Linked DNA regions of Homo sapiens. The protein of the gene in region 1 interacts with the protein of each later gene in a biochemical or structural test. Each region holds a gene or a part of one and is shown in the gene's direction. Other genes may lie near its edges. The genes, in order: RAB22A and APPL1.

Evidence for each region.
Region 2: the proteins of RAB22A (region 1) and APPL1 form a complex in vitro, tested with the Homo sapiens proteins (one study listed by IntAct).

What each region holds. Positions count from the first base shown.
Region 1 is NC_000020.11:58,307,413-58,311,325, forward strand, and holds the start of RAB22A (ras-related protein Rab-22A), read left to right. Parts: upstream 1-2,302; 5' UTR 2,303-2,564; coding exon 2,565-2,600; intron 2,601-3,630; coding exon 3,631-3,710; intron 3,711-3,913. UniProt on the Homo sapiens protein: Plays a role in endocytosis and intracellular protein transport. Mediates trafficking of TF from early endosomes to recycling endosomes. Required for NGF-mediated endocytosis of NTRK1, and subsequent neurite outgrowth.
Region 2 is NC_000003.12:57,265,717-57,269,629, forward strand, and holds part of APPL1 (DCC-interacting protein 13-alpha), read left to right. Parts: intron 1-2,025; coding exon 2,026-2,076; intron 2,077-2,625; exon of another isoform or gene 2,626-2,681; coding exon 2,682-2,771; exon of another isoform or gene 2,772-3,824; coding exon 3,825-3,913. UniProt on the Homo sapiens protein: Multifunctional adapter protein that binds to various membrane receptors, nuclear factors and signaling proteins to regulate many processes, such as cell proliferation, immune response, endosomal trafficking and cell metabolism.

The sequences.
Region 1 (3,913 bases):
CCATTTTACTGATGAGGTCGCTGAGGCATAGAGTGGTACAGCGACTTGCCTGGGATCACACTGACAGTAAACAGTGATACGGGATTTCACTCTTGGCCATCTGATTCCACAGACACCGGGCTCTTAACTATCAGCTTGCTTTACCCCTTCAAAAGTGTTATGCTACTTTAACAAAACTGCCCCTTGTTGGTTTGTTTTGTTTTGTTTTGTTTTTTTGAGACGGAGTCACTCTGTCGCCCAGGCTGGAGTGCAGTGGCGTTCACTGCAACCTCTGCCTCCCAGGTTCAAGCAATTCTCCTGCCTCAGCCTCCCGGGCAGCTAAGATTAGAGACGCGCGCCACCAAGCCCGGCTAATTTTTGTATTTTTAGTAGAGACAGGGTTTCACCATGTTGGCCAGGCTGGACTCAAGTGATCTGCCCGTCTCTGCCTCCCAAAGTGCGGGGATTACAGGCCTGAGCCACCGCACCCAGCCGAAACTGCGCCTTCTGAGTTAATGTGTGTAAAGAGTTTAAGACTGGGCCGGGCGTGGTGGCTCACGCCAGTAATCCCAACACTTTGGGAGGCCGAGGTGGGCGGATCACGAGGTCAGGAGATCGAGACCATCCTGGCTAACAGAGTGAAACCCCTTCTCTACTAAAAATACAAAAAATTAGCCGGGAGTGGTGGCGGGCGCCTATAGTCCCAGCTACTTGGGAGGCTGAGGCAGGAAAATGGCGTGAACCCAGGAGGTGGAGCTTGCAGTGAGCCGAGATCGTGCCACTGTACTCCAGCCTGGGCTACAGAGCAAGACTACGTCTCAAAAAAAAAAAAAAAAAAAAAAGAGTTTAACGCTGTCTGGTCCATGGTAAGTTTTCAGTAAACACCAACTCTTACTATTAGGAAACCTGAAGATGTGGAATGAAAGATGAGAGGAAGTACTGTATATGACTGGCGTACAGTACGCCCCCAATTAATGTTAGCTATTTGGATGATTTATATAGGGCTTCTTCACCAGCAAGCACTCCGGTGCTCGGTAATTTTCTGTTTACAAGTAGGCTCTCCCCACACCCTGTGAGCTCCCTGCGTGTAGAGCTGTTTTCAACACATCCTTGCAGGTTCGGAGCCCAACACGTGGCCCCCAGAGCAAATAGCTGCTCAGTAAGTTTCTTGACAGGAGAGAAAACGCTTCCTTCCTTCACCAGAAATGCGAACTTGGATTTCTAAGATGACACCTCCCCCAGCTACCAGCCCTTAACATGATTCCAAAAAAGAGGGCAAGAAGGGACAAGGGTCCCACCCAAGAAATGCGGGGGCCAATGGGCTCCATGGGATAAGAGATGGAGCCGGGCTTGTGGCCAGGACACTTGAGAAGTCCGTGCAACTCCGTGACCGGCCACACCGAGAGGGGGACCTCCCAAACCCCCCAGCAGTCCTAAAAAGTCCCTAGGAAAAGGGCAAGGCCCTGAGAGGGAAGTCACCCACCTCCCAGGTGGCGGACCCCCCGCCCGCCCAGGGTCGACTAGGACTTGGGACTACCCCCTCCGCCCATCCCACGGCAGCTGCAGGCGCAGGAAGAAAAGAAGTGACAGGGAGTCCAAAGTTTCCCCAACAACAAAAATCCTTCCCCCGAGGGAAGGGAAGGGCTCCCACCCTCAGCCCGCCCCGCCCAGGGAGGAGGGACCGCCACCAGTGGATCTAGGCAGTTGGGGGTCCCGCTGTTCTGGTCCCGACAAGGAGTGCCTGGCTTGAGGTTCCCCCGCCCCGCGCTTCGTGCACTCTGAATTCTTTGAGAGGGTCCCAGGGAGGGACAGGGGTGCCCCAACTCTTACTTACAGTCGTCTAAGTCATCCTGCAAGTCCACAAAGTACAGGGGGATCTCTGAAAACCAAGAAACACACAAGAAGTTACCAGGGGGCTGCGGCGAGAGGGGACGGGGTCGGGCAGGGGCCCCTCGGCCTCGCGGGGTGGTCACGGGGCGAGAGAGAGAGGGGCACCCCTGGCATCCCCCGAGCCCAGCCCCACTCACCCGCCATCTTGGGATGGGCATGGAGGCGGGACCGGCAGGGGCGGGGCCCTGCAGACAGGGGCGGGGCCCTGCAGACAGGGGCGGGGCCCTGCAGACAGGGGCGGGGCCCTGCAGACAGGGGCGGGGCCCTGCAGACAGGGGCGGGGCCCTGCAGACAGGGGCGGGGCCCTGCAGACAGGGGCGGGGCCCTGCAGACAGGGGCGGGGCCGTCGGCTTCGGGCCCCGCCCCCGATCCGCGCCGGCCGGCCGGCCCCGCCCTCTCAGCGAAGGTGGCTGCCGAGGTGGGCGGGGAGGTCAGGTGACGCGGCCGGCGTCCCAAGATGGCGGCGGCGGCGGCTCCCGGAAGGCCGCGGCGGCGTCCCGGCTGCTAAGGCGGGCCCCACGCGGCTGGCAGCGGACAGGCCGGACCTACGGCCGGAGGACGGGCGGCAGCCGCCTCTGCGCGGACCGGGGCTGGGCCGTGCGGCGGCAGCGGCGCCAGGGGATGCTCTTGCTGGGCCTGGCCTCTCCCTTCTCAACTTAGGGCGGCGGCGGGCCCGCGCCCCTGGCTCCCGGGCCATGGCGCTGAGGGAGCTCAAAGTGTGTCTGCTCGGGGTGAGTGGCGGCGGGTCCGGCCGGGAGGGCCACGGGAGGCTGGGCTGGCGGGGACCCCGGATCCCCCCTGTCCCCTCATCCCTTCCCCCCTCCCACGTCCAAGACGCTGTCTGCCAGCCCCGTGGACCCTCCCTCCAGCTCGGGAGCCGTCCCGCCCACCTCTTGCACTCTCGAAAAGGTCCTGGAGGCCGAAGGGACCCTTCCCCTTCCCCTCCCTGGAGCCCGTGGACTCTTCCCGCCCCACAAAGAGCAAACAGCCCCCCCTTGCCTCTCTATTGCATCTGGGTTAAGAGAGGTTCTTAAATAGTTTTCTCCCAACTTACCAAGGTATTAGTTGGGAGTTGGCCAAGTCTTCCAAAGTAAAACCAATAACAGGTCTTTAGGTTTTACAAGCAGCATTAGCCTACTTTGTCTCTTGGGTGTTTTTGAACTTGTGGGATACCCCTGCCACTTGTCCAAAGAGTTACTTTGCCAAGTAACTCTTCCTGTGGAGAAAAGGGGTGTTCAAATCAGGAAGCCCCAAAGACTAGTTTGAAGCTTCAGCTTCCTGTCTTGTCAGGAAAGACAAGGTGTTGGCCATTTCAAAGCCTTCTTTCTGAAATTGATGCTGTCATTCCAGAGTTTCTGCCTTAAAGATCGGCAGGAACTCCAATAACTAATCTTTATTCCCCCAAATAGGGTGGGGCTAGGATTCATCAGGGATTACTCAGAGGTAACTCAGGAGTTCAAAGTTTACTAACATATGTTAAAAAGCAAGTGGACTTGTTACTTTTTACACGAAGCAGAAACTTTGGGTCTCTCAAAAGGTCCTAATCTGTCTTAACGGCAAAAACCTCTCCCTTTTAGTACAGTTGGAATTTCCTAATTACTCTACTGAATTTTTATGACAACCGCTTTTGTGTTCCTCCGTTTATAAAATTTACACGTCTAGGGTGATTTTTCTAAAATCCTGAACTTATGCCACAAAGTAGTTTTTGGTGTCTGCCAAAAGGTAAACTTTTTCTCAGTCCCTCATCTCGTTCTCTTTCAGGATACAGGTGTAGGTAAATCGAGTATTGTGTGGCGGTTTGTGGAAGACAGTTTTGATCCAAACATCAACCCAACAATAGGGTAAGAGACTTTTATTTGATACACATCTAAAGGTGCATTGAAAATCCTTCCAAATACATAGTGTGTTACAGGTGTAGGCCCTGCGCTTTGTAGTCATTGAATTCTGAGTCGCTGGTTCGCATCATCTCTGGAAGGACTTGAAAGAGTCCAGTGAGGATCTGTGTATTTTAGGAAAATTATCTTCGGACTTGTTGGGGGTGAGA
Region 2 (3,913 bases), on another chromosome or scaffold:
TCCTTTACAATTTGGATGCCTTTTTTCCTCTCTTACCTGATTACTCATCTTCCATCTAAAAGGTGGAAAGGCTTTTTGTTTTTCTGCATTCAGTATGATACTAGCTGTGAGTCTGTCATATATGGCTTTTATTATGTTGAGCTATATTCCTTCTATACCAAGTTTTTTTGAGGGTTTTTAATCATGAAGGGATGTTGAACTTTATCAAATGCATTTTCAGCAGTAATTGAAATGATTAAATAGTTTTTGTCCTTTATTCTGTTGATGTGATGTAGCATATTGATTGATTTGCATATGTTGAACTATCTTTGCATTCCTGGGATAAATCCCACTTGGTCATGATAAATGATCTTTTTAATGTGTTGTTGAATTTGGTTTGCTAGTATTTTGTTGAGGATTTTTGCATCAATATTCATGAGATATATTGGCCTGTAGTTTTCTTTTTTTGATATGTCTTTGTCTGGTTTTGGTATCAGGTAATACTGGCCTCGTAGAATGAGTTTGGAAGTATTCCCTTCTCCTCTATTTTTTGGAACATTTTGGGTAAGATTGGTATTAGTTCTTCTTTAAATGTTTGGTAGAATTCAGCAGGAAAGCCATCAGGTACTGGGCTTTTCTTTACCAGGAGACTTTTTATTATGGTTTGGATCTTGTTACTTGTTATTGGACTGTTCAGGTTTTGGATTTCTTCGTGGTTCAATCTTGGTAGGTTGTATTTGTCTAGGAATTTATCCATTTCTTCTTGATTTTCCAATTTACTAGCATGTAGTTGCTCATAGTAGCCACGAATGATCCTTTGAATTTATGCAGTATCAATTGTAATGTCACCTTTTTAATCTCCAATTTTATTTGAGTCTTCTTTTTCTTAGTCTGGCTAAATGTCAGTTTTATCTTTTCAAAGAAACCAACTTTTTGTTATGTTGATCTTTTGTATTGTTTTCTTCATGTCAGATTCATTTATTTCTGCTCTGATCCTTATAATTTCTTGTAGTATTTTTATAGTTTTGGGTCTTATGTTTAAGTCTTTAATGTATTTTGAGTTGATTTTTGTGTATGGTGAGAGGGAGGGGTCTGGTTTCATTCTTCTACATGTGGCTCTCCAATCTTGCCAGAACCATTTATTGAAGAGGATATCCCTTCCCCAGTGAAAGTTCTTTGTCACTTTTGTTAAAGATCAGTTGGCTGTAAACAAGTGGCTTCGTTCCTGGGTTCTCTATTCTGTTCCATTGGCCATGTGTCTTATTTTTATAACAATCCCCTGCTGTTTTGCTTACTATAGCCTTGTAATATATTTTGAAGTTAGGTAATGTGATGCCTCCAGCTTTGTTCTTTTTGTTTAAGATTGCTTTGGCTATTTGCATTGAACCTATAGATTGCTTTGGGCAATATGGTTATTTTAACTATATTATTCTGATCCATGAGCATGGGATGTTCTTTTGTGTCTTCAGTCTCTTTCATCAGTGTTTTGTAGTTTTTTGTGTAAATAAAATTCTTATATAATTCTAAGATTTTTGGAAAAAACTCCCAAATTTTGCCTAGGCTTACTGAGCTGCTTGAGCAAAGCATCTCTGAATAGAGCCAAGCTGATGGTTTGGGCCTTCTGACTCTACAGACCCATGTTTTCCCTGCCACTGATAGCTGGTGCAATCTTTTAGCCTCTCATTTATGTTGGGAACCAAACATTATGTTGGGAACCAAAACCAGCCATTTTCAGATGTCTTCAGCTGAGAATAGCATTAGCAGCTGCATGCTTCTTCCTCGTAGGCCTTACTGTGACAGTAATGAATTTGACATAACAAGAAGTGGGGTATATATGAAGGTGAGAGTCAGCAGTGGAATCCTGTAGACTTCAAGGAAAACATACAAAGCCTTGGTTTGGGGGCTTGAGCATTCTTAAATATGCTTTTGCTTGAAGCAATGTATTAGGATTAGTTATAAAACTAGTTCCATCAGTTATTTGGATACTTGACATTTTTGCTTTGTTGTGAGAACTGCCTGAATTTTTCATACTTTTTCTCTTTTTAGATATGTGATTCTGTTGGACTGGCAAAACAGATAGCTTTGCATGCTGAACTGGTAAGAATCCAAGATGTGGCTGGGCACAGTGGTTCACACCTGTAATCGCAGCACATTGGGAGGCCGAGGCGGGCAGATGACTTGAGGTCAGGAGTTCGAGACTAACCTGGCCAACATGGTGAAACCCCATTTCTACTAAAAATACAAAAATTAGTTGGGTGTGGTGTCGTGCACCTGTAATCCCAGCTACTGAGGAGGTCTGAGGCACGAGAATGACTTGAATCCGGGAGGCGGAGGTTGCAATGAGCCGAGATCACACCACTGCACTCCAGCCTGGGCAACAGAGCGAGACTGTATCTCAAAAAAAAAAAAGGAATCCAAGATGCTTGATTTTCCAAGAATGTTAACTAAAATAGTATATTAGCTCTTTCATATTAGCAAGTAAATAAAATGATTTTGCTAAGCAAGGTTAACAGTGATACTATTACCAACATAGCATTTAGAATTTGGATAATTGTTTACCATTGAATATAAACTGTTGATGTGCTTTCTTATGTATAAATGCAAAAAAATATTGAAAGGTTACCATGTGATATTAACTGAAATGTCTAAAATTTAAAGTTATTTCATATTTAATTCATTAGTTTTATTCATCTGTTCTTTAGGATCGTAGGGCATCAGAAAAACAAAAAGAAATAGAGAGAGTAAAAGAGAAGCAACAGAAAGAACTCAATAAACAAAAACAGATTGAAAAGGTATACAGTCCTAATGTCTGGATCTTTATGTGTTGTTTGTGAAGACTTAATTCAGCACTATGACTTTCAGATTTGAATTTCCAAATGAAGGGCTGTTTCTGCTTGTTCAGCCACTTCATAAACAGATGATTCATACCATAGCAGAAAAGGGTCACATCTGTTTTTTGATATGATGTTTACATTATAGTTACGTTGACATGTAATATGACTGTTTCAAAAATATACCAGAACTTTAATATTTCAGAGGAGGTTGTCTCTGTCAAAGCAGTTGAGAGGCTGTGTAGACTTAACTGCCATTGCTGAAAGCCATTTTGCCTTCTATGGGGGGGAAATAAATAAATATATATGTTATATGAAATATATAATGAAATGTATATTTTTAATATTGCCAGGAGTGTCAAATCATTGTCCATCCAACAGAATAATTTTAAAAGACAAATTTCAGAGCAAAACTTGAAGAATGCATTAAATGATCCATGAAATTGTAAGAGCGTGTTATGGGTTGTAGATTGACAGTAGGAATAGAAAAGAGGAGACAGCTGGGATGCTTAGAACAGATCAATAAGCATTGGCTGTGGGCTGGCTCTCTGGACAAAGAAGAGGGAAGTGGCAAAGATGACATTGAAGTGAGGCTTTCTTGATAGGCGAGGCTGAGGGAAGGTGACACCTGATTTAGCAAAGATGAATTGGACAGGGATGGAGAAAAGGGCTGGAGAGGGGAAGGGAAAGGAGTGTGGGGGTGATCCCTTTCGAGGGTTTTACTATAATATATAGTGAGAGATGATTGATGATGGGCTTTATTTGGTTGTTGGTCATAAAAAAAGAAAGATAAAATATTAGATTTTAGTTTGAATGCTGGCTTTTATAGGATGGTGCCAAAATTCATTTTGGTGTTGTATTGTTTGGGTGTAGCTTTTCTTTTTATCAAGTTGTCAGAAGTATGCATACATATTTATGACAGAAGAAGTGGCTCTCAAGAATGTATCTTAACTGCATAATTTGCCATTTGACTGCAGACAAGTAACTTAGTTTCTTTTTTGTCTTTTCCACTAGGACTTGGAAGAACAAAGTCGGTTGATAGCTGCTTCCAGTAGACCAAACCAAGCCAGTAGTGAGGGGCAGTTTGTTGTCCTTAGCAGTAG